Homo sapiens: one gene and its partners. The protein of the gene in region 2 purifies or fractionates together with the protein of the main gene of each other region. This does not show direct contact. Each region holds a gene or a part of one and is shown on either strand. Other genes may lie near its edges.

The links.
Region 1: the proteins of NAXD (region 2) and SLC25A30 purify together in Homo sapiens (affinity purification with mass spectrometry; 2 studies listed by BioGRID and IntAct, with this or other methods). This does not show direct contact.
Region 3: the proteins of NAXD (region 2) and CYB5D2 purify together in Homo sapiens (affinity purification with mass spectrometry; 2 studies listed by BioGRID and IntAct, with this or other methods). This does not show direct contact.

What each region holds. Positions count from the first base shown.
Region 1 is NC_000013.11:45,414,777-45,422,912, reverse strand, and holds the start of SLC25A30 (kidney mitochondrial carrier protein 1), read left to right. Parts: upstream 1-4,539; 5' UTR 4,540-4,613; exon of another isoform or gene 4,614-4,751; intron 4,752-8,136. UniProt on the Homo sapiens protein: Antiporter that transports inorganic anions (sulfate, sulfite, thiosulfate and phosphate) and, to a lesser extent, a variety of dicarboxylates (e.g. malonate, malate and citramalate) and, even more so, aspartate.
Region 2 is NC_000013.11:110,610,202-110,619,015, reverse strand, and holds the start of NAXD (ATP-dependent (S)-NAD(P)H-hydrate dehydratase), read right to left. Parts: upstream 3,472-8,814; 5' UTR 3,425-3,471; coding exon of another isoform or gene 3,415-3,424; coding exon 3,369-3,414; exon of another isoform or gene 3,342-3,368; coding exon of another isoform or gene 3,242-3,341; exon of another isoform or gene 2,663-3,241; intron 1-2,662. UniProt on the Homo sapiens protein: Catalyzes the dehydration of the S-form of NAD(P)HX at the expense of ATP, which is converted to ADP.
Region 3 is NC_000017.11:4,152,708-4,158,674, forward strand, and holds the end of CYB5D2 (neuferricin isoform 1 precursor), read left to right. Parts: intron 1-1,966; coding exon 1,967-2,153; exon of another isoform or gene 2,154-2,216; intron 2,217-2,582; exon of another isoform or gene 2,583-2,717; intron 2,718-3,239; exon of another isoform or gene 3,240-3,486; intron 3,487-4,158; coding exon 4,159-4,375; 3' UTR 4,376-4,990; downstream 4,991-5,967. UniProt on the Homo sapiens protein: Heme-binding protein which promotes neuronal but not astrocyte differentiation.

The DNA of each region.
Region 1 (8,136 bases), about 65 Mb from region 2:
CATGGTGTCCAAACTGAGGCCTGATGGATGAGAAGGGCTTAGCAAGAGAAATAACTCAGCAGGTGCAATGCAGTGTGTGCCAAGTTGCAGAGGTAAAAGGGAGTATCCCTGTGTTTGGGGAGCTGTGAGTATTTTATACAGCCATTCAGTGACTTACACAAAAGATGCATTCTCAACAAAGCACCTGTAACCAAGAAAAACAAATGCCCAAAGCAACATTCCTATAAAACAGGATTTCTAAAACTTCAGTACTATTGCCACCTTCCTGGGCATTGTTGAACGTTTAGCAGCAACCTAGGTCCCTACCAACTTGCCAGTAGCAAGCATCTAGTTGAGGCAACCGAAAAACTCCAGACATTGTGAATTTCTCCTGGAGGGCAAAATCTGATTCAGATTGAGAACCGCTGCAATAAAATATAATGATAAAGAATTTTATGGGCTCATTCCCAGTACACCAGCTAGGAACACTGGCCTATCCAGGTGTTCTTCTTAGGAGTAGCAATGGCTCATTGCTTCTGCATTTTGCCAAGGAGAGGAGGTGACCAGATGTCTCAGTCAGATACAACCTCCTCCTTTCGCCAACCACCAAATGTTACCCCTAAAAGGTCTGACTAAGCCCTTTCATTCTGCAAGCACCAACCATCCAGAAAAACCTGTGAGACTCATTCTTGACAAGACGCAGGTCCATATTATCTGCATCATTCCTGTAGTTTAATGTAATTAAACAAACATTTATCAAATTGTAGTTGATTCCAAAGCATTTGTTATTTATTGCCACTATATAGTGCACACACAATTGCCAAGATGATGAAAACCATGATGTGGGTAAAAAATGGTTCCTGCTGCCCAGCTCCTCATAGAGATTGGCATCATCCACCTAAGGGAGTGTAGTGAGGGCTTTTGGCTGTGTGGATGTTACTGTTCTAACAGTTTGCTAATAAAAGGCCTAAATGGCAATAAAAGCCCAGCTACTTGAGAAGTGCCTATATGGCCAGACTTTAGAATGTAGGATTGAGGGGCAAGTGCATGGGTGAGGAGGATAGGGAACTGGATTCTTATGGCTGGAGGGCTCTAAGGACCACGTGGTCAGGGGCCTTAATCTTGAGGACACTGGGGAGCCAATGAAGAATTTTAAGCTGGTGAGTGCCATGGCCAGATGAATTCAAAGATATTTCTACAGCACTTACATTTTACAAAGTATGTTTTTGCACACGTCGCCTCATTTAACATTCTGTAGGGAGGGTATTGTTTCCATTTTGCAACTGAGGACTTTAATTAACTCAAGGCCAGAGAGCTAATAAAGCTGTGGCCAGGATTGAGTAGAACCTAGGTCTTCATTTCCATATTGCTACCTGGGTGTGTTAACTGTAGTCAGATAAAAAACATGCACAAAGAGCCAAATAGGGGGAAAGTTGAAGGCAAAGAATAGATGAAAAAGAAGTTGCTTCCAACAGGGACTGGCACTGAATAGTTCGTAGATATATTTCTGGACTTACCACTTTTTTTTAATTCTTTTTTTTTTTTTTTTTTTTTGGAGATGGAGTCTTGCTCTGTTGCCCAGGCTGGAGTGCAGTAGCACGATCTCAACTCACTGCAACCTCTGCTTCCCAGGTTCCAGCAATTCTCCTGCCTTAGCCTCCCAAGCAGCTGGAACTATAGGCAGGCAGCACCATGCCCGGCTAATTTTTGTGTTTTTAGTGGAGATGGAGTTTCGCCATGTTGGCCAGGCTAGTCTTGTACTCCTGACCTCAGGTGATCCACCTGCTTCGGCCTCCCAAAGTATTGGGATTATAGACGTGAGCCACCACGCCTGGCCTTTTTTTGTTATTCTTGTTTCTAAACTGGTTATGCTGCTGCAACCAAGTTACTATTCCCTAGAGAAATAGTTTCCAATCCCTGGGCCAAGACCCTTGGAGGAACCCAAGGTTACTGCAGGGGCCCCACAAATTCCATATGCATTTTCATAATGGACACTGAAAATACTACCATCTATTTTATAGGGACTCAAAATTTTTAAAAAATTCAGTTTTCTTTCAAAAAGATCTTTGGCCAGGCATGGTGGCTCATGCCTGTACTCCCAGCACTTTGGGAGGCCGAGGCAGGAGGATTGCTTGAGTATAGGAGTTCGAGGCTGCAGTGAGCTGTGACTGGGCCACTGCACTCCAGCCTGGGTGACAGAGCGAGACCCTGTCTTGAAAAACAAAACAAAACAAAAGCACAAAAAAACCCACAAAGGGATCTTCATACTTGAAGGCTGGCCATTCCTGTGTATTTCTAAGTATTATCTGAGTATTAGCATGGGCTGGTGGGGCTTAGGGTAATGGTAGAGTTTGGGTGTCCAAAAGCTCTACAGGAAAGGGAGGAATCCAGTGCTTTGTATGTAGTACCACACAGTCATGAGTCTGGAAAGGACTTGGTGAGGTGAGAGAGAGGTAGAAAGGGTCATGTACTTATTTCCCTGCCCTAGAAAGGCAAGCATTCCAATGACTTTCCCCCACAGGCTGGGGATTGTATTTGTTTTTATGGCCAGAATTCAGGGGATACTTCAAAGGGGTCCAAATTTTATTGATTTCAAAACATTGTGTGGCCAAAAATCCAGGTACTCACCTAGAGTCCAAGTTGGAGCACAGAAAAGAGATTGTTTAAGCTCAACCTGGGGCCTGAGCTGGAGACACAAGAGAAGGAAATGAGAGAGAGATGGCCCTGGGCCCTGGTTCTGTAACAGGGCAGTTATCTCATGAAACCTCTGTTCTGTCATCTGTAAAATGGAAATAACATTTCTTTGTCTTGAATGAACCAAGGGATGTAAAGATTCCTGGAGTAGCACTTTGCATCAACAGATGCAAGTTTTATACATATGCATTTTCCTTCCTCCCTTCCTTCCTCCCTCTTTCTCCTTTCCCCTTTCCTTTCTTCCCCTTCCCCTTCCCTTCGCCTCCCCTCCCTTTCCTTTCCTTTTCTTTCTCTCGCGCTGTCACCCAGGCTAGAGTGCAGCAGCTAGAGTGCAGCAGCTAGAGTGCAGCGGCGTGATCTCGGCTCACCTCAACCTCCACCTCCCAGCTTCAACTGATTTTCCTGCCTCAGCCTCCCGAGTAGCTGGGATTACAGGTGTCCATCACCACGTCCGGCTAATTTTTGTACTTTTAGTAGAGATGGGTTTTCTCCATATTGGTCAGGCTGGTCTCGAACTCCCGACCTCAGGTGATCTGCCCGTCTCGGCCTCCCAAAATGCTGGGATTACAGGCATAAGCCACTGAGCCCGGCCCCAGTTATATGTTTAAATCATGAGTTCACAGCCGGGTGCCGTGGCTCACACCTGTAATGGCAGCACTTTGGGAGGCCGAGGCAGGCGGATCACCTGAGGTCGGGAGTTCGAGACCAGCCTCACCAATATGGAGAAACCCCATCTCTACTAAAAATACAACAATTAGCCGGACGTGGTGATGGGCACCTGTAATCCCAGCTACTCGGGAGGCTGAGGCAGCAGAATCACTTGAACCTGGGAGGCGGAGGTTGCAGTGAGCTGAGATGGTGCCATTGCACTCCAGCCTGGGCAACAAGAGTGAGGCTCTGTCTAAAAACAAAACAAAACAAAAATATACCTGGGTATGCTTGAACACAAACACTGCCATACCGTTAAAAATGTTATATATTAATATATAAATAAATATTTACATATATGTATATTAGATATATATGTAAAGATTTCTACTCATAGTACGGTTCTTTTAATTTTTTGTTCTGTTTGGACATTTTCTTTCTTTTTTTTTTTTTTTTTTTTTAAGAGGGAGTATCACTTTGTCGCCCAGGCTGGAGTGCAGTGGCGCGATCTTGGCTCACTGCAACCTCCGCCTCCCGGGTTCAAGCGATTCTCCTGTTTCAGCCTCCCGAGTGGCTGGGATTACAGGCACCCGCCACCAGGTCTGGCTTTTTTTTTTTTTTTTTTTTTTTTTTTTTTTTTTTTTTTTTTTTGAGACGAAGTCTCGCTTTGTTGCCCAGGCTGGAGTGCAGTGGTACGCTCTCTGCTCACTGCAATCTCCGCCTCCCAGGTTCAAGCGATTCTTCTGCCTCAGCCACCCAAGTAGCTGGGATTATAGCGCCCGCCGCTATGCCCGGCTAATCTGTATATTTTCAAGCTAAAAGCTGGGGTATAAAAAAATAAGGGCAAGTTTACTTCCATCCAACTGTGAAGGTTCACGGGGGCACCGTGAGAAGGTTGCCCCCTGCGAAGGTTGCTTTTCCACGGTTCTCGATGCGTTCCCCAAATTTCTCTTCCACCTCCCAGTCGATATCGGAGGCCACATCAGGTGTCACCGAGTCCCGGGCAGCTCCCTCAGGCAGCGGCAGGGGAAGATCCTGAGGGGCACTTGGGACGGGCCCCGCCCCTCCGTGTCCCCATCTGGGGCTGTCAGGGGTGTGGCTAGTGCTGGCAGAAACCAATGGGAGCTGAGGAGGTCGCGTGTTTGCGCGGACGGGGCGGGGCGGCGCGGGGCTGCGTGCAGGCTCGTGGGTCTGCCCCGCCCGCGACGGCATTTTTTCCTTTTCTCCAGCGGCCTCAGGTTCTTGTTACAACTGAGTCCGGGTTGGAGGAGGTGTGGGGCCGCTGCCGCCAGGTAAGTCCTGGCCCGTGCCTCCTCCTGCCGGCCCCGCTTTCTCTGCGGCTCCTGGAACCCGGGCCTGGGGTAAGGTTGGGCTGCGATTTCCGAGGAGCCTCCTTTGCAACCGGGCGTGCTCGGGGCTGCCTGTGCTCTCCACTTCGCAGGCCGGGCCGGGCTCGGCGGGGCGCGAGGTTCCGGGGACTGGGGACAGGGCTCTGCTTCTCGGGCTGCTGCCTCCTTGGGTCGGGCCGGTGCCGCGGGGCCCCCATCGCTGTTGGCGTGGGGTGATTCCTGTTCCAGGGTCATTCAGATCCGAGTGCGAAGCCCGTCCTGGCATCTCCGCGTCTGCTAACGAGCCCCGGGCTTGCAACCCTGCTTGTGCGTCCCTCCCACTCGTGCGTTCATTCAAACGGCAGCCTGAGCGCCCGCGAGCTTCGCACTGTGGGAGAGGGCACACCACATTCGGAATCGCTCGTGGCACACAGGCTGGGAGGAACTTGCCTGGAAAGTTAATGTACCTCTGGGTTTTGAAGTCTTTCTAGGTGCACTTTCATGTAAAGCAGTTGCAGTGATTAGCATTTTTGTTCTGCGCAAGAGTAGCAAACAATGTTGGCACTGCCCTGCGGATTCGGCTTGCGGTGCTACTTGGGTAGTGAGAAAGTTGAAAGGCATGAATCTTGCTTTTGGCTTTGCCGTTGCGAAGCTTTGTGACCGCGGGCTCAGTTAATTAACGTGAAACGAGATGATAATTTCGAAGATTTCTTTTAAACCCGGCTTTTTGTAAGTCTGTGATGAGCTTAGTTTTCCTTCTGCACCTTTAAAAAGAATAGGAAATAGGAAAAGTTCATGAAAGGGCATTATTGAAAGGGCAGTCGGTCCAGCAAGGAACAATAAATGTATGAGAGCACATTAAAGGCTGTGCAATTACAGTTTTAAGACTTAAGACTAAAAAGGGAACAGGAAGTAAAACTGAAAGAACTTACCAAGAATTAAATAAGAGAAACGGCTGGGAGCGGTGGCTCAGGCCTGTAATCCCAGCACTTTGGGAGGCCGAGGCGGGCGGATCACCTGAGGTCAGGAGTTCGAGACCAGCCTGGCCAACATGGAGAAACTCCGTCTCTACTAAAAATACAAAATTAGCCGGGCGTGGTGACGGATGTCTAATTCTAGCTACTCGGGAGGTTGAGACAGGAGAATCGCTTGAATCCAGGAGACGGAGGTTGCAGTGAGCCGAGATCATGCTATTGTACTCCAGCCTGGGCAATAAGAACAAAACTCCGCCTCTAAATAAATAAATAAGAGAAACTTGGAAAGCGTTCAAAAGTACGAACAGCTAGTATTATATTTAATTACCTCCCTTTACAGCTGTACACATGAGGTCAGGTGGGTGAAAATAAATACTAAGCAACCATGTAAGAGAAAATGTAGACAGGATGTGTAACTTAGCATATATCCTAAGTGTAGGGAGAATCCTTTGAAATTCTTAATTTGTATAGACAATTTCATTCAGAAAACTTGTTTTTAACCTTTATTTATTATTTGGGACAGGGTCTTGCTCTGTCACCCAGGCTGCTAGAGTGCAGTGTCATGGTCTTAGCTCACTGCAGCCTTGAAGTCCTGGGCTTATGTGCCCCTTCCACCTCAGCCTGCGGAGTAGCTGGGACTAGAGTCGCGTACCACCATACCTAGATAATGTTTTGGATTTTTTTAGTATAGGTGGTCGTCTCATTCTGTTGCCCAGGCTGGTCTTGAACCCCTGGCCTCAAGCTATTCTCCAGCCTCAGCCTCCCAAGTAGCTGGGATTACAGGTATGTGTGACTAGCCCAGCTAACATTTTTGTTGTTGTTTTTTTACTTTGTATTTTTCACTTTTTTTTGTATTTATTTATATATTTATTTATTTATTTGAGATGGAGTTTTGCTTTTGTTGCCCAGGCCGGGGTGCAGTGGTGCGGTCTCAGCTTACTGCAACCTCCGCTTCCCAGGTTCAGGCAGTTCTCTTGCCTCAGCCTCCCGAATAGCTAGAATTACAGGCGCCCACCACTATGCCTGGCTAATTTTTGTATTTTTAATAGAGACAGGATTTCACCGTGTTGGCCAGGCTGGTCTCGAACTCCTGACGTCAGGTGATCCACCCGCCTCGGCCTCCCAAAGTGCTAGGATTACAGGCATGAGCCACCGTGCCCGGCCTGTTTTGTTTTTAACTTTAAAAAATTTGGACCGGGCGCCGTGGTTCATGCCTATAATCCCAGCACTTTGGGAGTCGGAGGCAGGCAGATCACAAGGTCAGGAGTTCGAGACCAGCCTAACCAACATGGTGAAACCCCATCTCTACCAAAAATACAAAAATTAGCTGGACGTGGTGGCACGTGCCTGTAATCCCAGTTACTCAGGAGGATGAGGCAGGAGAATTGCTTGAACCTGGGAGGCAGAGGTTGCAGTGAGCTGAGATAGCACCACCGCACTCCAGCCTGGGTGAAAGAGCGAGACTCAGTCTCAAAAAAAAAAAAAAAAAAAAATTATTCAGCCAGGCACCAACAGCTTTCTTTCTTTTTTTTTTTTTTGTGATGGAGTCTCGCTCTGTCACCCAGGCCACAGTGCAGTGGCGCCATCTTGGCTCACTGCAACCTCTGCCTCCCGGGTTCAAAGCTATTCTCCTGCCTCAGCGTCCCGAGTAACTGGGATTACAGGCATCTGCCACCATGCCCAGCTAATTTTTGTATTTTTAGTAGAGACCGGGTTTCACCATGTTGGCCTGGCTGGTCTCGAACTCCTGACCTCAAGTGATCCACCCTCCTCCACCTTCCAAAGTGTTGGGATTACAGGCTTGAGCCACCACACCCGGCCAACAGCTAACATTTTTAAAAATAAAATTTTTTATTTCCTCTGCTGGAAAATTCTATATTTATTCTGAATGTATAGAATTCCCTGCCCTGCCCCCCACCAATATTTTTTTAACAGCCCTTGGAAGATAGTGTCTGCAAAGTACTATCTAGAGGAAGGGTCATGTGATCCTTCAGAGAAACCTTAGTTTGAATATTTGGTAGCTTTGACCAGGGAAAGTTACTTTTCTTCTCTGAGGCTGTTTGCTTAGTTGTGAGATGTGGATAATGATACCTCTTTCATAGGACTGTGAAGAAAATGTATAGCAATGCCTAACAGCAGGTATTCAGGGATGACTGCTAGTGTTAGTATTATGTTCATAACGCAGCAAGGAGAAGTAAGGAATTACTGGGTTTTAGCATGGCTTAGAGAACATGGCTGTAAGAGGACTGTCAAATCAGAAGTGATCTACAGCCACTGCCCGACACTGGAATTTCTGCAAAGTTGTAATTCCTTCCCCGAGATGCTGCCCAGACACTATTGACTGCTAAGGACACATTAATCTCTCTAACTGTCTTGGCTTGTCAGCCTTGGGACTTCTGTAGATCCAGTTGGGATTTTTCCAAACAACTGTGTTTGGAATTCAAGGAAGTGTTTCACGAGACTTCCCTTCAGAAAGAGCTCCAAAACAAAGAAATGGGTTAGTTTACTGAACA
Region 2 (8,814 bases):
GGCACAGCAGGGCCGCCTCGGGGTCACAACTGCAGCACCAGAGCTCCCAGGGATGCTGTGTTCCAAGTGCTTGTCCTCTCCGCATCTGCTCCCCAGAGCGGAAAAGCTTCCCTTCTGCGTCACACTCTGCTGAAAGTCCTCCCAGTACTTTTGGTACTGGGATAGCACCTTTCTGATCTTTTTGGTTGAGAAAGAGGAGATATGCTAGTCCAGGCAAGGATACGCTTAAAACCTACAGGCTTTAAAGCTAATACTGATTTTTGTTGTTATTCAAATAATGACAAGAACACATACAATTTTTCCTGCACTTCAAGGTAAGCTTTGTTAAAATGATAAGATATCAGGGGGCTCAAACATCGAATACAATATACGAATAAGGGCCACTTTCTAAGGCGGATTTTTCTACAGCAGGTTAAGCATTAAAGTCCCATTTACCACAAGCCAAAAATATCAATTCTGAGTGTGTAAAACCCACTGCATTCACACGGCAATCTTTATCATAGCTAGGAAGAAAACACGGGGGGAATCCTGTTCTGAGCTATTCCTTTATCTTATACAGAAGGTAGTGTTTTGAAGCCCAAAATGTGCAAACCACCTTCACAGCAACTTGATCAACCCACCAGCGGGAGTCGCCTCCTCCTGCTCCTGTTCCGTTGTGAAATCTTAAGACTTTGTGAGATTCCCAGTTCCCTGGCCATGATGCTACCGTAAGGGCTGGGTCTAAGAACCCTGGAGAACAAGAAGCGCCATCCAGAAACTGAATATTTCAAGATTTACACATGAGAACAACGGCTCTCAAATGGAAGCTAGCTTAAAATTATGTTAAACTCATAATATAATTAATAGTAACTTTTTTGCTACATAATTTTAAAAATTCAAAGTGATACCAAAAGTAACTATTATTACATGTGGGGTTCTGAAACCTTTCGAGCACACAGACAACCTACATGGTAGGGGCTGACCTGGACATAAGAAGGAAGTTCTTATGTCTGGACTGGCAGAGAATCAGCACCCTACTACTGCCTGCCCACGAGGAATGTGGCACCATCCGCAAGCTGCAGCACTGACTGCTTCCATGTGGGACTCAATCACCTCGAACACAGCCTGGCACAGAACAAGACACTTGATACATGTTCGATGAAGTCAAGACATCGTGATTCACTCTCCTCACTAGCACTTTATCTTTCTTTTACAGATAAGGAAACTGGGGCCCAGAGAGAAACCTGTGCAGATGCTGTGGTTAGTAATGGACAAGCCAGGCCACAAGACACTATTTTACCAAAGTGCTGCCATGTTTTTGTTTTTATTTTTGTGGGCACACAGTAGGTGTAAAATGCTGCCATTTTAAGGCAAAATAAGAAGTATAGCATTTTCACTTGAATAGAATTGTATTAACACAAAGTAAAATCCAGGCTGCTCACCAGCATTCACCTAAGATAAACAGCTTCTGTTAGCAAAAGGGCCAAAGCAGGTCAACTAAACTTCCCAGCACTTGGCAGTGAAGCAAGTTCCAGCTGGCTTACTGACGTCACCATTTGAACTTAACATTTCAAATGTTAACACAGAAACATTTACATATAAAGATCAAAGTTCTGAAGGATAAAAAGGCCTTGACAATAGGCGACTTAAGATGTATCCCATTCGGTAACTCTTCAGACAATTCTGAGTCTGGAAGAACAGGTTAAATTTGTTTGGCTTTTGTTTTAAGGAAGCGTGTCTGGGGAAGACTATCACTGCTGCTTTGTGCTAAAAGTGCTTTTAGTACTGGAAAATTCTACTTAAAAAAACAAAAATACTTTAAGTTAATGTGAGTTATAACTAATTTAGAGCATTTAACCACAATCCCTAAGTTAACTGAAATATTTCCTAAAGCCTCAGTAATATACAACTCTACCTGGCTTTTCGTAAAAGTTTAGGCAGTCTGATAATAAATCCTCAACCAAGCGCAATGAAAAATCTTGCTACTAATCACGGTGTGTGAATTTAAGGTAAAGAGCTACAAATAAATCTCTAAATAAAGTGTTAAGAAGCCTCCCTGCTGGTGTGAGTGAGGTGCAGTGTAGAGTACCCTCTCAGCGCCACCCAGTGCATTCTCAGTGTGTGCTGATGAAAACAAAAAGCCAAACTCTCTGACGATGCCCAACATACACACAAGGTAAAATCTATCTAATGACTACAGCAACAAATGGTGCGTTTAACCATTTCGGCCACTCACTGGCTGGAGAATCCTGGCTAAGTCACTTTCTCTGAGCTTCTATTTATCTTCTATACCAAGGTGGATAACAGCAATCTCTCCTTATGAGAAATGAGATATACACGAACTACTTCCTGTATAAAATATGTTAGATACACCAATACCAACAAGGCAAACAGAAAGACAAAAAAACCCTATGAAGAGATGGGGCTCCAAGCACTTGCTCAGCTCCTGTTTAAATTCTTTCTACCTTATCCGTTCTATTTGAAAAGGCATCTCAGCGTGCAAGGACCAGCCAAGGCCAGGGCAGGGCCCTCGGGGACATCTGGCCAGCACTTCAGGTTCTGGGGATGACTCAGGTGAGCCTCCCTCCCCAAGGGACCTCCTACACGCACACACACACCCCGAACCGGGGGCGGGCGAAGGAGGCCTGGCTGGTGGAGTCCTTTTCTGCGGCCCAGGCGTCGCAATATCCAGTCCCTCTCGTCCAAGGACGTGCAGGGTCTGTACTTGCCCAGTCGCACTGGGACTTCAAATTGGGGATGCAGACACGGCCCTGCTCCTGGTGTGCGCGAAGCCCGCTCAGCCGGCCAGCTCGCCTGCACGCCCGCCGCGTCCCTGGGCCCCAGGAGGGCCCCCGTATCCAGCTCCGACCAAACAGCAAGCCCGCAGTTGGCGAGCATCTTTCCCAGACCGGGAGCGGGGACAGAGCAGAGCAGACGGATCCGACCAGCGCACCACGGCGCCCCAGGGCCCTCCTACCGTCCTCGGCCCTCGGCCCCCCGTTCCCCGGCCACCGCGCGGGCTCCGCCGCTCCTGGGACGCGCACTGGCTCCGGCCCGGCGCCACCCTCTGCCCCTCTGTCACCCCGCACGGAGGCTCCCATCACCCAAGCCGCGCCCAGCCGTCGCCGCGCCGTTCCAGGAGGCCTCCGTCCTCTCCCTACTCCGCCCCGCAGGCCACACGGCGCCCCGGCCCCGCGCGCGGGCTGCCCCTCGGCGGCGCTTCCCCCCCGCGAGCCAGCAGAGGCGGTCAGCGGTCGGGTACCTGCGTCCAGTGGCGGCCCGTACAGCGCGAGTGCGGCCGAGAGCAATGCGACAACGACCGCGCCGGCGACGGCAGTTCCGGCCCCCGCGCGTGTGACCATCCCCGGGCCAAATGGAATCGACCTTACCTCGTCTGCAAGCCCGGATTGCCCCACAGCGAGGACCCAGGGCCATCGGGCAGCATTCCGGATTCCCAGCTGCCCCCGCGCCGTCGCCGGAAACACAGCCATTGGAAGCGTTTTCCGGTTTCCCGACCGCCTCCGCGCGGCTGTCGGCAGTGGGATCCCAACTCGCTCAATCACACCCGGTTCTAGATGATTGACAAGCGCGACGCCCAACCCGGCCTGGTCCCAGCTCTGGCCTAAGAGGTTCGGCTGGAAGGCAGGTTGAAGAGTTAACAACGATCTGGTTCAGGGTCTGGTTTGTGTTTATCGGCCCATTTTTAGGCTTGCGGCGTTATAGAAAATGATTTTGCTGGCAGGTGGAGTGCCGAGGCCCACTATGTGCCCCCAGTATAGCAGTCAGGTGCCTTTCTGCTCCAGGCGCAACCTCTGCCCTGAACCCCAAACCAGCTCGCTGCGAGGCCCCTTCGCTTTCCACCGTCTCAGGTCAGGGCAGCTCCATCACTCCAACGCTGAGGCCCAAACCCCTGGAAGGCATTCTGACCTCTCCTGCCCTCCCACCCACGCTCCTCCTGTGGCTGATGGCCTCTTACCTCCACTGCCGCCCTATTTGAAGCCACCGTCATGGTGCTAAAAGAAACTTGTGGGGCCAGGTGCGGTGGCTCGCGCGTGTGATCCCAATGCTTTGGGAGGCCAAGATGGAAGGATCGTTTGAGCCCAGGAGTTTGAGACCAGCCTGGACAACATAAGGAGACCCCCTTCTCTACCAAAATTTTTTTGGAAAATTAGCAGGGGATGGTGTGGCACACCTGTAGTCCAGCTACTTGAGAGGCTGAGGTGAAAGGATGGCTCAACATGTCAGAGGCCTTTTAACCAGAGCGATTCCATCTTGAATAGGGACTGGGTAAAATGAGGGTGAGACCTACTGGGCTGCATTCCCAGGGGGTTAGACATTCTTGGCCACAGGATGAGGTGGTGGGCACAAGATACAGGTCACAAAGACCGCACTGATAAGATGACACAGTAAAGAAACTGGCCCAAAGCCTACCAAAACCAAGATGGCCACAAAAGTGACCTCTGTGTCCTCATTGCTCATTATTTGCTGATTATAACGTATTAGCATGCTAAAGGACACTCCTACCAGCGCCATGAGAGTTTACAAATGCTATGGCAACATCAGGAAATTACTCTATATGGTCTAAAAAGGGGAGGAACCCTCAGTTCCAGCAATTGCCAACCTCTTTCCCAGAAAACTCATGAATAATCCCCTCCTTATTTAGCCTATAATCAAGAGATAACTATAACTATGTGTGGAGTTAGTTCCTGCCGGTGGGTTCATGGTCTCACTGACTTCAAGAATGAAGCTGCGGACCTTCACAGTGTTACAGCTCTTAAAGGTGGCATAGACCCAAAGAGTGAGCAGCAGCAAGATTTATTATGAAGAGGCCGGGCGTGGTGGCTCATGCCTGTAAGCCCAGCACTTTGGGAGGCCGAGGCGGGTGGATCACAAGGTCAGGAGATCGAGACCATCTTGGCTAACACGGTGAAACCCTGTCTCTACTAAAAATACAAAAAATTAGCCGGACATGGTGGCGGGCGCCTGTAATCCCAGCTACCCAGGAGGCTGAGGCAGGAGAATGGCGTGAACCTGGGAGGCAGAGCTTCCAGTGAGCCGAGATCGGGCCACTGCACTCCAGCCTGGGCCACAGAGCGAGACTCCACCTCAAAAAAAAAAAAAAAAAGATTCATTATGAAGAGCAAAAGAACAAAGCTTCCACAGCATGGAAGGGGACCCAAGTGGATTGCTGCTGCTGGCTGGCGGGGGTGGGGGGGTGGGGCAGCTTTTATTCCCTTATTTCTCCCCTCCCATGTTCTGTTTCTGCCCTATCGGAATGCCCTTTTTTCAATCTTTCCTGCAATTGGCTACTTTTAGGATCCTGCTGATTGGTGCGTTTTACAGAGCACTGATTGGTGCATTTTACAATCCTCTTGCTAGCTACAGAGCGCTCATTGGTGCATTTTACAATCCTAGCTACAGAGTGCTGATTGGTGCATTTTACAATCCTCTTGTAAGACAGAAAAGTTCTCCAAGTCCCCACTCGACCCAGGAAGTCCAGCTGGCTTCAAGTCTCATAAGTATATTCAGTCAAGCAGCCAGTGCCACTGCTCTGCCTATGGAGTAGCCATTCTTTTATTCCCTTTCTTAATAAGTTTGCTTTCAATTTATGGACTCGCCCAGAATTCTTTCTTGCACAAGGTCCAAGAACCCTCTTGAGGTCTGGATTGGAACCCCTTTCTGATAACAGAGTGAAACCCTGAACTACACCTACCAGACCAAACCAGTAAGGAGTTTAACTACAGTAACTGAGCTTTACTTCATGGCAGGAAACTCTGTAACCAGTTAAGCAATGAAGTTATAATCAAATTAGCTGTCTCCATCACACACTTCTGTTTCCTATAGGTGCTGTCAGATCAGGTTCCTGATTGGAGTTCTCTTATCTGCTCTGGTTTGGAGGGCTGCCCCATTCGGGAATCTGTTTTGTTTTGCTCAAATACACTCAGTTAAAACATACACGTGTCTAAGGTTTTTCCATTTAACAGTGTGTGGCCTGGATGATGGCAATAGTCTGCTGCATGAGTGTCAATGAAAAGAGTCAAACTCTAAAATATTCGAGATTTATTCTGATCCAAAGATGAGTGACCATGGCTTGTAACATAGCCCCTGCAGATCCTGAGAACATGTGCCCAGGGTAGTCGGGCTAAGCTTGGTTTTATACATGGTAGGGATACGGAAGACATCAATCAGTACATGTAAGAAGTACGTTGGTTCAGCCCAGAAAGGTGGGACAACTCCAAGAGAGGAGCTTCCAGTCATAGGTGGATTCAAAGATTTTCTGATTGGCAATTGGTAGAAAGTTTACTTAAAGACTTGGAATCAGTAGAAGGAAGTGTCTGGGTTAAGATAAGGGGTTGTGCAGATGAGGCCTCCAGGTAGCAGGCTTCAAAGAGAATGAATTGTAGATGTTTCTTTTTGTTGTTGTTGTTGTTTGAGACAGAGTCTCACTCTGTTGCCCAGGCTGGAGTCCAATGGCACAATCTTGGCCCACTGCAACCTCTGCCCCCCAGGTTCAAGCGATCCACCCTACTCAGCCTCCCAAGTAGCTGGAACTACAGGCGTGCACCACCACACCCGGCCAATTTTTGTATTTTTAGTAAAGACAGGGTTTCACTGTGTTGGCCAGGCTGGTCTCCAACTCCTGACCTCAAGTGATCCTCTGCCTTAGACTCCCAAAGTGCTGGCATTACAGGTGTGGCCCACCTCACCTGGACTTTGTAAATGTTTCTTATCAAACTTCAGGTGCCGGACTCTTAGTAAATTATCTCCTGGATCAAGAAAAAGACCTGGAAAAGGAAGGGGAGTCTCCTCAGAATGTAGATGTTTTTCCCCAAAGAGACAGTTTTGCAAGGCTATTTCAAAATATGCCAAATGAATATATTTGGGGTAAAATACTCCAGTTTCTTTCAGGGCTTGCAATCTGTCACATTGGTATCTTATTGCTACAAAAATTCTGCTTTGTCAGTCTTAAGGTCTCTGTTTTAACGTTAATGCTGGTCAACTGTGCCTGAATTCCAAAGGGAGGAGGGTATAATGAGGCATCCATCCCCCCTTTCCATCTCGGCCTGAACGAGTGTTTCAGGTTTACTGTAAAATGCCCTTGGCACCCTCCCCAGCCTCTGCCTCTGTCATCACATGATGGTCTCCTTGTCCTCACGTGGGATTTTCCTCTCCTTTAAGGACACCAGTCATATTGGAGTAGGGCCCACCCTAATGATCTCATCTCATCTTAATTCAATAATCTATAAAGACCTCACTTCCAGTTACGGTTATAGTCACAGGTACTAGGGGTTAGGATTTAACATATTCTGAGGAGACACAACTCAACCCATAATACCTTCTGTTAATAAATTAACCTCCCTGCTTTCCTACAGCAATAGAATGATCTTTCCTATAAGTCAGATCATGTCACTCCTCTGCATAGAACCATCCAACTGTTTTCCATGACACTCAGATTAAAATTAAGGTGCATTCCATCACTCTCCGACCCCTATGTGATTGGCGCCCCCAATCACCTACAGCTGTCGGAGGTCTCCGGAGGGTCTCTGGATGCCACTGAGACCCCAGCCCCAGCCAGTTTCCAAGTTCTTGACACCAGCATGAGAAAGAATTCAGGGACACGTCAGAATGAAACGAAAGGCAAGAAGCTTTTACTGCAAAGCGAAAGCACACACGTAAAAGAGAATTGCGGGCGTGCTCAGCAGAGTGAGTCACATCAGAGTTTGAGTTTCTAATTTTATGGATTTTTTTTTAATTAGGGGGTGGAATAATCATAAGGTATTCTGGAAAAGGAGTGATTTCAGGGACTCCCTCCCCCCATTACCACAGACTTTTACCCTTATTCAAGTTTTCCCAGGATCATGGACATATCACCCTGACCAGGATTTGACCATTTTCTCTTCCTTATTTTGGGTTTTCTGTTAACCTGCGGTTTCTTTGCCTCGTTCTTATTCTAGCTGTTGTTTGGGTTTTTCCATCCTCCTGTGACCACCCAGTGCTATTCCCATTTCATTTTCCCCCTTGGAGATTTCCATCCCTTCTTCTTTTATTTATTTTCTTTCTTTCTTTTTTTGAGACAGGGTCTCACTCTGTTACCCAGGCTGGGATGCAGTGGCATAATCATGGCTCACTGCAGCCTCCCCTTCCCAGGCTCCAGCGATCCTCAGACTTCAGCTTCCTGAGTATCTGGGACCACAGGTGTGTGCTACCACGCCCGGCTAATTTTTGTATTTTTGGTAGAGATGGGTTTTTGCCATGTTGTGCAGGGTGGTCTCAAACTCTTGAGCTCAAGCGATCTGCCTACCTTGGCCTCCCAAAGTGCTGGGATTACAGGCATGAGCCACCTACCGTGCTCAGCCATTCCATCCCTTATTCTTGAGGGAGATGAGGGAGGAGGTCAGTCTTCCGTGTCATCTTCCTGCTGATTTAAGAGCACTGGCCCTGCCTACCGAGGGCATGGGAATCTCCAGCTGCTTGATCTAAGGGTCCCCAGGGGACAGCAGGAGCGTCTGATTCCAAGACAGGAAGCAGCTGGAACCCTAGCTTGAAGATCACCTTTACCTAGATCTGCTGTAACCAGAGACAGGCACTTTACAAGCAAGTTGAATATGCATGGGCCAAATATTAACGATGAGCTCACCCTTAACGGGCCCAAAAGTGGTAAAAACCAGGTACTAGAAGGTACAGCAGCTTTAACAGCATCCCACATAAAATCAGCAGGAGGGTTTTTCTTTTCGAGGGTGCAAAGGCATTTTGCCTGGTCATTTGTGCCTGAATTCCAAGGCATGGGGGAAAGTGGAGTGAGGCGTGTCTGACCCCCAGCTTTCCATCATGGCC
Region 3 (5,967 bases), on a different chromosome or scaffold from region 2:
CGGGCCCTGATTCCTTTCTTTATTCATCTAATAAGTATTTAAAATGAATGCTCTATGCTAAGCTGTTTTATTTATTTATATATTTTTTCAGATGGAGTCTTGCTTTGTCACCCAGGCTGGAGTGCAGTGGCACGACTGCAGCTCACTGCAACCTCCAACTTCTAGGTTCAAGCAGTTCTCCTGCCTCAGCCTCCTGGGTAGCTGGGATTACAGGCATGCACCACCACGCCCAGCAAATTTTTGTATTTTTAGTAGAGACAGGGTTTCACCATGTTGGCCTGGCTGGTCTCGAACCCCTGACCTCAAGTGATCTGCCCGCCTCAGCCTCCCAAAGTGCTGGGATTACAGGTGTGAGCCGCTGCGCCTGGCGCTAAGCTGTTCTGAGTACTGCGCCTCACTAGTAGAGAGAGCCATCATAGACAAGTAAACAGATTGAACAACTCCACATAGGACCATGCATCAAACTGTGATGTAATACGTTTGGGAGCTTTGGCTCCTTTAGAGCACATGCTCAGGAGTGGCTTCTTGGAGAAAATGACCGTTAAGCTGAGACCGGCAGGTGAGTGGGAGGCAGCCACACCGAGACCTGAGGAGAGTGTGCTGGGTCAGGGAAGAGCGGTGCGAAGGTGGGGAGTGGGGAAGCACAGCCAAGACACAGAAAGGAAGCCAGTGTGCTGGAGCCCCCCGTGAACGAGGGGGGACGTAGCTTGTAAGAGGCTGAAGAAGCAAATCAGTTAAATGGTTACAGGGCCTTAGAGGCCTTGATAAGAAATTTGCATTTTTGTCTGCTTTAAGAAGCCATTGAAGGGTTTTAATCAGGCATCGGAGAGCCATGGTAGGATTCATGTTTTTAAAAGATCCCCTAGTTGTTTTATGGACAGAGAACTCTAGGAGGGCATGAGCTGACCAGAGAGCAGTTAGGAGGCCACTGCCACAGTCCGTGGTTTGGAGGAGGGTGATGGCAGTGGGAATGGAAAGGAGTGAACAGAATCAGGATCTGTTCAGAGGTAGGACTGACGAGGTTTTCTGATGGATCCGATCAGACAGCAAGGAAGGGAGTATGATGTGGATGTAGAGGAGGAGGAGTCAGGCTCCTAATGCAGGTCACAGGCTAGAGGCAACACGGATTTGGGAAAGTCAGGGAGGGCGTTGGACTTGGGAGACGAGCTGAATCTCAGATGCGCTGAACATACGCGCCACTAGAATCGAAGGTAAAGCTAGTTCTTAGGGGTTGCTCCCTCTTCGGTCGCACCTCCCTCAAGTGCTTCCTTTCTGCTTCTCTTGCCTTGTGGCAGGTGCTGCCTCTGAAGGGCATTTGCACCTCAGGACTGGGCTACATTAGGACCCTGGGCTGAGAGAACTGACCTGTTTTTCCTTCTGGCCTATAGGCTGGTGGACCACTTGCTGGCTGCTGCCATAGCTTAGACTTTTACAAATTCTGACAGGCATTTTAAAGCCGGGCACAGTGTGACTTACACCTGTACCCCCATCTACTCAACAAGCTGAGGTGGGAGGATTGCTTGAGCCCAGAAGTTCAAGACTAGCCTGGTCAACAGAGTGAGACCCCATCTCTATTATAATAAACATTTAAAAAATGTTAGCCAATAAGCCATTCATTCATCAAACATTAATTGAATACCCAGCGTGTGCTCCAAGCACATGGAAGCATGGAGAAATGAATCACACATGGCTGTGCCCTCAGGGAAGCCTTGTCTGGAAGTGAGAGAGGTTTGATGGTTTCTGTGCTGAAGGGCTCTGCAGCTAGAAGAGGGATGCAGCTGTGTGGGGGCTTGTAGGGTGCTAAGAGGTTGGTGTGCAAGGCACCAGGAGTGCCTGCAGTAGAAGTTCTTATTAAACGCGCACCAGCAGGACTGAAGTCAGAAACCCTGGGAACTTGTGCCTTCCCACACCTGCCTCAGCAGCTGAGTATTCACTCTCACTCACATCTGCCTTCCTGTCATCACAGGGAGGGTGACAGGACGGTTCTACGGAGAGGATGGGCTGCCCACCCCGGCACTGACCCAGGTAGAAGCTGCGATCACCAGAGGCTTGGAGGCCAACAAACTACAGCTGCAAGAGAAGCAGACATTCCCGCCGTGCAACGCGGAGTGGAGCTCAGCCAGGGGCAGCCGGCTCTGGTGCTCCCAGAAGAGGTAAGCAGGCTCCCCTTCTTCTCCTTTCTGCCTGTCCCAAATCCAACTCCTAGGCCATCCTGCCTGCAGTATTCAGTGAATTCAGGAATTGATTGTTAACCCTGGGGAGCTTTTTCAAAATACTGATAATAATTCTCAACTTTGGCTGCATATTAGATCTTCTGGGGAATTGCCGAAATTACGGATGGTCAGACCTCACTCCACTCAACTGAATGGGTTGAGACTTGGACTTGAGGCCTGGGCATCTTTTTATTTTTTCCGAATTCTCCAAAGATCCTGCTGACACAACCTTGACCCGGGAATGAGAAGGCACAAGCAGGATTTCTTGCTTTCTTTGGCCTGCTCAGCCACCCACGGGCTTTGGTTTCCTGTTTGACAGCACAAATCATGCCTATCTATAGGAGAGGGACGAGGAGGTGGGGAGGGTACCTGCAGTGATGGCTTCAACTGCTGTCTTAAAAACAGGTGAGGCGGGCATGGTGGCTTGTGGGCCACACCTGTGGTCCTGGCTACTTGGGAGACTGAGGCAGGCAGGTCGCTTGAGCTCAGGAGTTGGAGTCCAGCCTGGGCAACATAACAAAAAAACAGTAACAAACAAAAAAAACCACTGCAAATTCGGAGTTCTCAGCCTTAAATGAGCGGAGCAAGGGCAAAGGTAGCAGGAAGGAAAGCTCCTTCTTTCCTGGCCGCTAGCTTTGAAGAGACAGCTTCTCCAGTGTCATCTCAAGAAAGAGGGGACTGTGAGAACCTGGCCTGCTCACTTTATGGAGAGAAGCTAAGATAGGCGTGGGCCTTCCTGTGACACAGGCCTGAATGCAGGTAGCCTCAGAGAGCACTGGTCTCTGAGACTCCAGGAGGAGGAGACTCCAGGAGGCCTGCGTGCGTTCAGATGCTTGACTTTGCTTCCTTGGGCCCTGCCTCCTTTTCCCTCCCCACAGCCTTCCCCTGTGTCTCCTGAACCTCTTCTTGCTTTCATGACTGAGTAGTTCAGGCTCTGCCTTCCCCACAAAACCCTTCCAGGGCCACCCTAGTGAACTGCGGGGCCCTATCCCTGTGCCTCAGCTCAGTTTGTTGTCTTCTGTTCACCTGTGTGTGTCCCATTAGACTGAGAGGAACAAGTGCCGAAGGCAGGGACAAGGTGTGGAGTACAGATCCCCAATGATGGGATGGAGGCTGGGTAGAAGAGGGAGGCGTTTGGGTGACAGCCTTGTTCTTGGTAAGCTAGAAGTAGGATGTTTTCTCGCTGGGGGCAGTTTCTCTGACAGCAGGCACCGGAAGCTGTCTGAGGCGTCAGTTCCAAGAACCTCAGTTTCTTTCTTGCAAGGCCTCTGAGTCCATCAGAGACTGAGCCCAGTGCCCTGAGGTGGGCAAGGCCCCTGCCCAAGATAGGAGGGTGCTCAGGTTGTTGGGCCACAGCTGAATCCTCCGTGTCTGAAGCCTAGTGCCATCAAGGACTGGACCTGTGGGGCACAGGACAGCTTGCAGCTACACTCTATGCCAAGGGCTTCCCAGAGAAGGCCGACCCAGGTGGCCAAGGGCCAGGGCCCAATTGCCCACCCCCAGCCAAGTGCCCCAGAGAAGAAGGTGAAGACCCTGACCTGCGCTGGGTTGTAGTGGGGAAGGAAGAGGACAGTCGCACCCAGACACTGCTTCTGAGAAGCTCACAGGCCAGCAGGGGAAGCCCTTTCACAGCTGTTGCCACCAGTGCAGGAACGTGGTGCTGCCTCCTAAGAAGGGGCAGGGCAGGGGCTGGGGAGCACAGTGAAAGGAACCATGGACTGTGCCCTTGGCCTGGGGAAGGTGGTGGTGGCCCTGCAGGGGAAGCTGGAGGATGTTAGGAGAGAGCATGAAGGCTCAGGGGCTGAGCGCTGTAGCCTGCTGCCTTGGGAAACACTCTGGTAGGCTTCTACTTTTCAGAAGGCCTGGCTCTCTGCTTCCTGCTCTCCCCTTCCCAGAGACTCATGAGTTCTCACATTTAAGAAGTCCTCTTTCCGTCTATCCTTAGTGGAGGTGTGAGCAGAGACTGGATTGGCGTCCCCAGGAAGCTGTATAAGCCAGGTGCTAAGGAGCCCCGCTGCGTGTGTGTGAGAACCACCGGCCCCCCTAGTGGCCAGATGCCGGACAACCCTCCACACAGAAATCGTGGGGACCTGGACCACCCAAACTTGGCAGAGTACACAGGCTGCCCACCGCTAGCCATCACATGCTCCTTTCCACTCTAAGCCGTAGCCTCTTCTGTTAATAACACACAGAGAGCTCTGCCAAGCACCTGAGTAGGCCCTTGACACTTGTGTGCCCTGGGATGCCTCCTGGCGCGAATCAGGAGGGTCTGGAAGGACTCTGGCTATATTCTGCAAATGTGGCTCATGCCCCTTACCGTGGCTCGGCGTTGTGGTGCCTGAGGGACAGCCGGCCACCTGCCCAGTACTGGTCAGCTTTTCAACACTATTCCCTTTGACCTACTGGCCATCTTCCTCACAGCCCTCAGATATCAACGGGCACAAATAAGACCAACTCAATTTCCACTTGAATTTACAACCAAAAGCCTGCTGAGTTGATTACAGCTGGGCCAATACAGTACGAGGCAATAACAAATTAGTGTGGGTTGATTCTGGAATTGGAAAAGCTTTTGCTTGTATGGATACAGCAAATCCAGATGTCTCTGAACAAAGCAACAATTTAAAGCAACGACATTTTCTGTCCTTTAAGCACTTAAAATCAGGTGTGGTGTGTTTTCAAAGGCAGAAGTCTGCATTTTGAGCAAAAGGTGGCTTCCCAGCTCTAACAAGGTAACTGGTTAGCATGACATTAAAGCTTGGGCAAGGCTTCAAACTTAAGGTGGCTGGGCTTGCTGCTTGTCCAGTGGTTTGTATGTCCAGCGTCATCTGGCAATGTCATACCTGTTACCTCTTGACTACTTGTGAAGGTAGATGGGGGCAAGGAGTGTTCCTACTTCAGACAGAGAAGTGGGACCAGCACTACCACAGACAGCGCCACGGCCTCTGTGCATCGCCTCATCAGAGCTTCCACCCAGCTCCCTTTGCCGCTCAGTCTCACCCTCAACATCCACCAGCTTCCTCCCTCTCTGTCACTGTCTCCTTTTTCTCCATCATTCATTTCACTAAATCGCTTTCCAGATTCACAGACTAGAAAATGGAGGCTGCCTCCCCTTCACTGGCAGACCCGTACTCACTGCCCCTGTCCCCTTCACTGGCAGACCCGTGCTCACTGCCCCTGTCCCCTCACTGGCAGACCCGTGCTCACTGCCCCTGTCCCCTCACTGGCAGACCCGGGCTTATTGCCCCTATGGCCACAGCTGTTCCTTACACTTGGGCTCTGGCTCATGGCTCCTTTTGCCTGCCCCCGCCATCCTCCTCACCTGCCCCTCTTGTACCTTTAACCTCTCCCCGTCTCCTGGATCTTCCCCCAGGTATGCATCAAACAGCTCACTTCTCTCACATCATAAACATTCCCTCAACTCCAGTTTTGGCTTATACTCACTAGCTTTGCTTTTCAGCTCCATTTGCTCTAAAAATCAGGAGAAATTCTGCATTGGCACATTCCGTGGTCACATCCAGTTCTTACCTAGGCTTTGTCACTCTGGATACTGTGGACCGTGGGGTCCTCCATGAAACCCTCGCTGGGCTTTATCCTGCTTCCCTTTTTGCCTCTGCCCATTCCTTCTTAATTGCCTTGAGAACCCCGTTTTGCCTCCACAAACCCCTTCCCATTGGCTCCTCTCACTCCAAATCCGACAGTTACTTAGACCGTCAAACCTGCACGTCTACTCCAGGCAGCTTTGCAGAGCATTTCA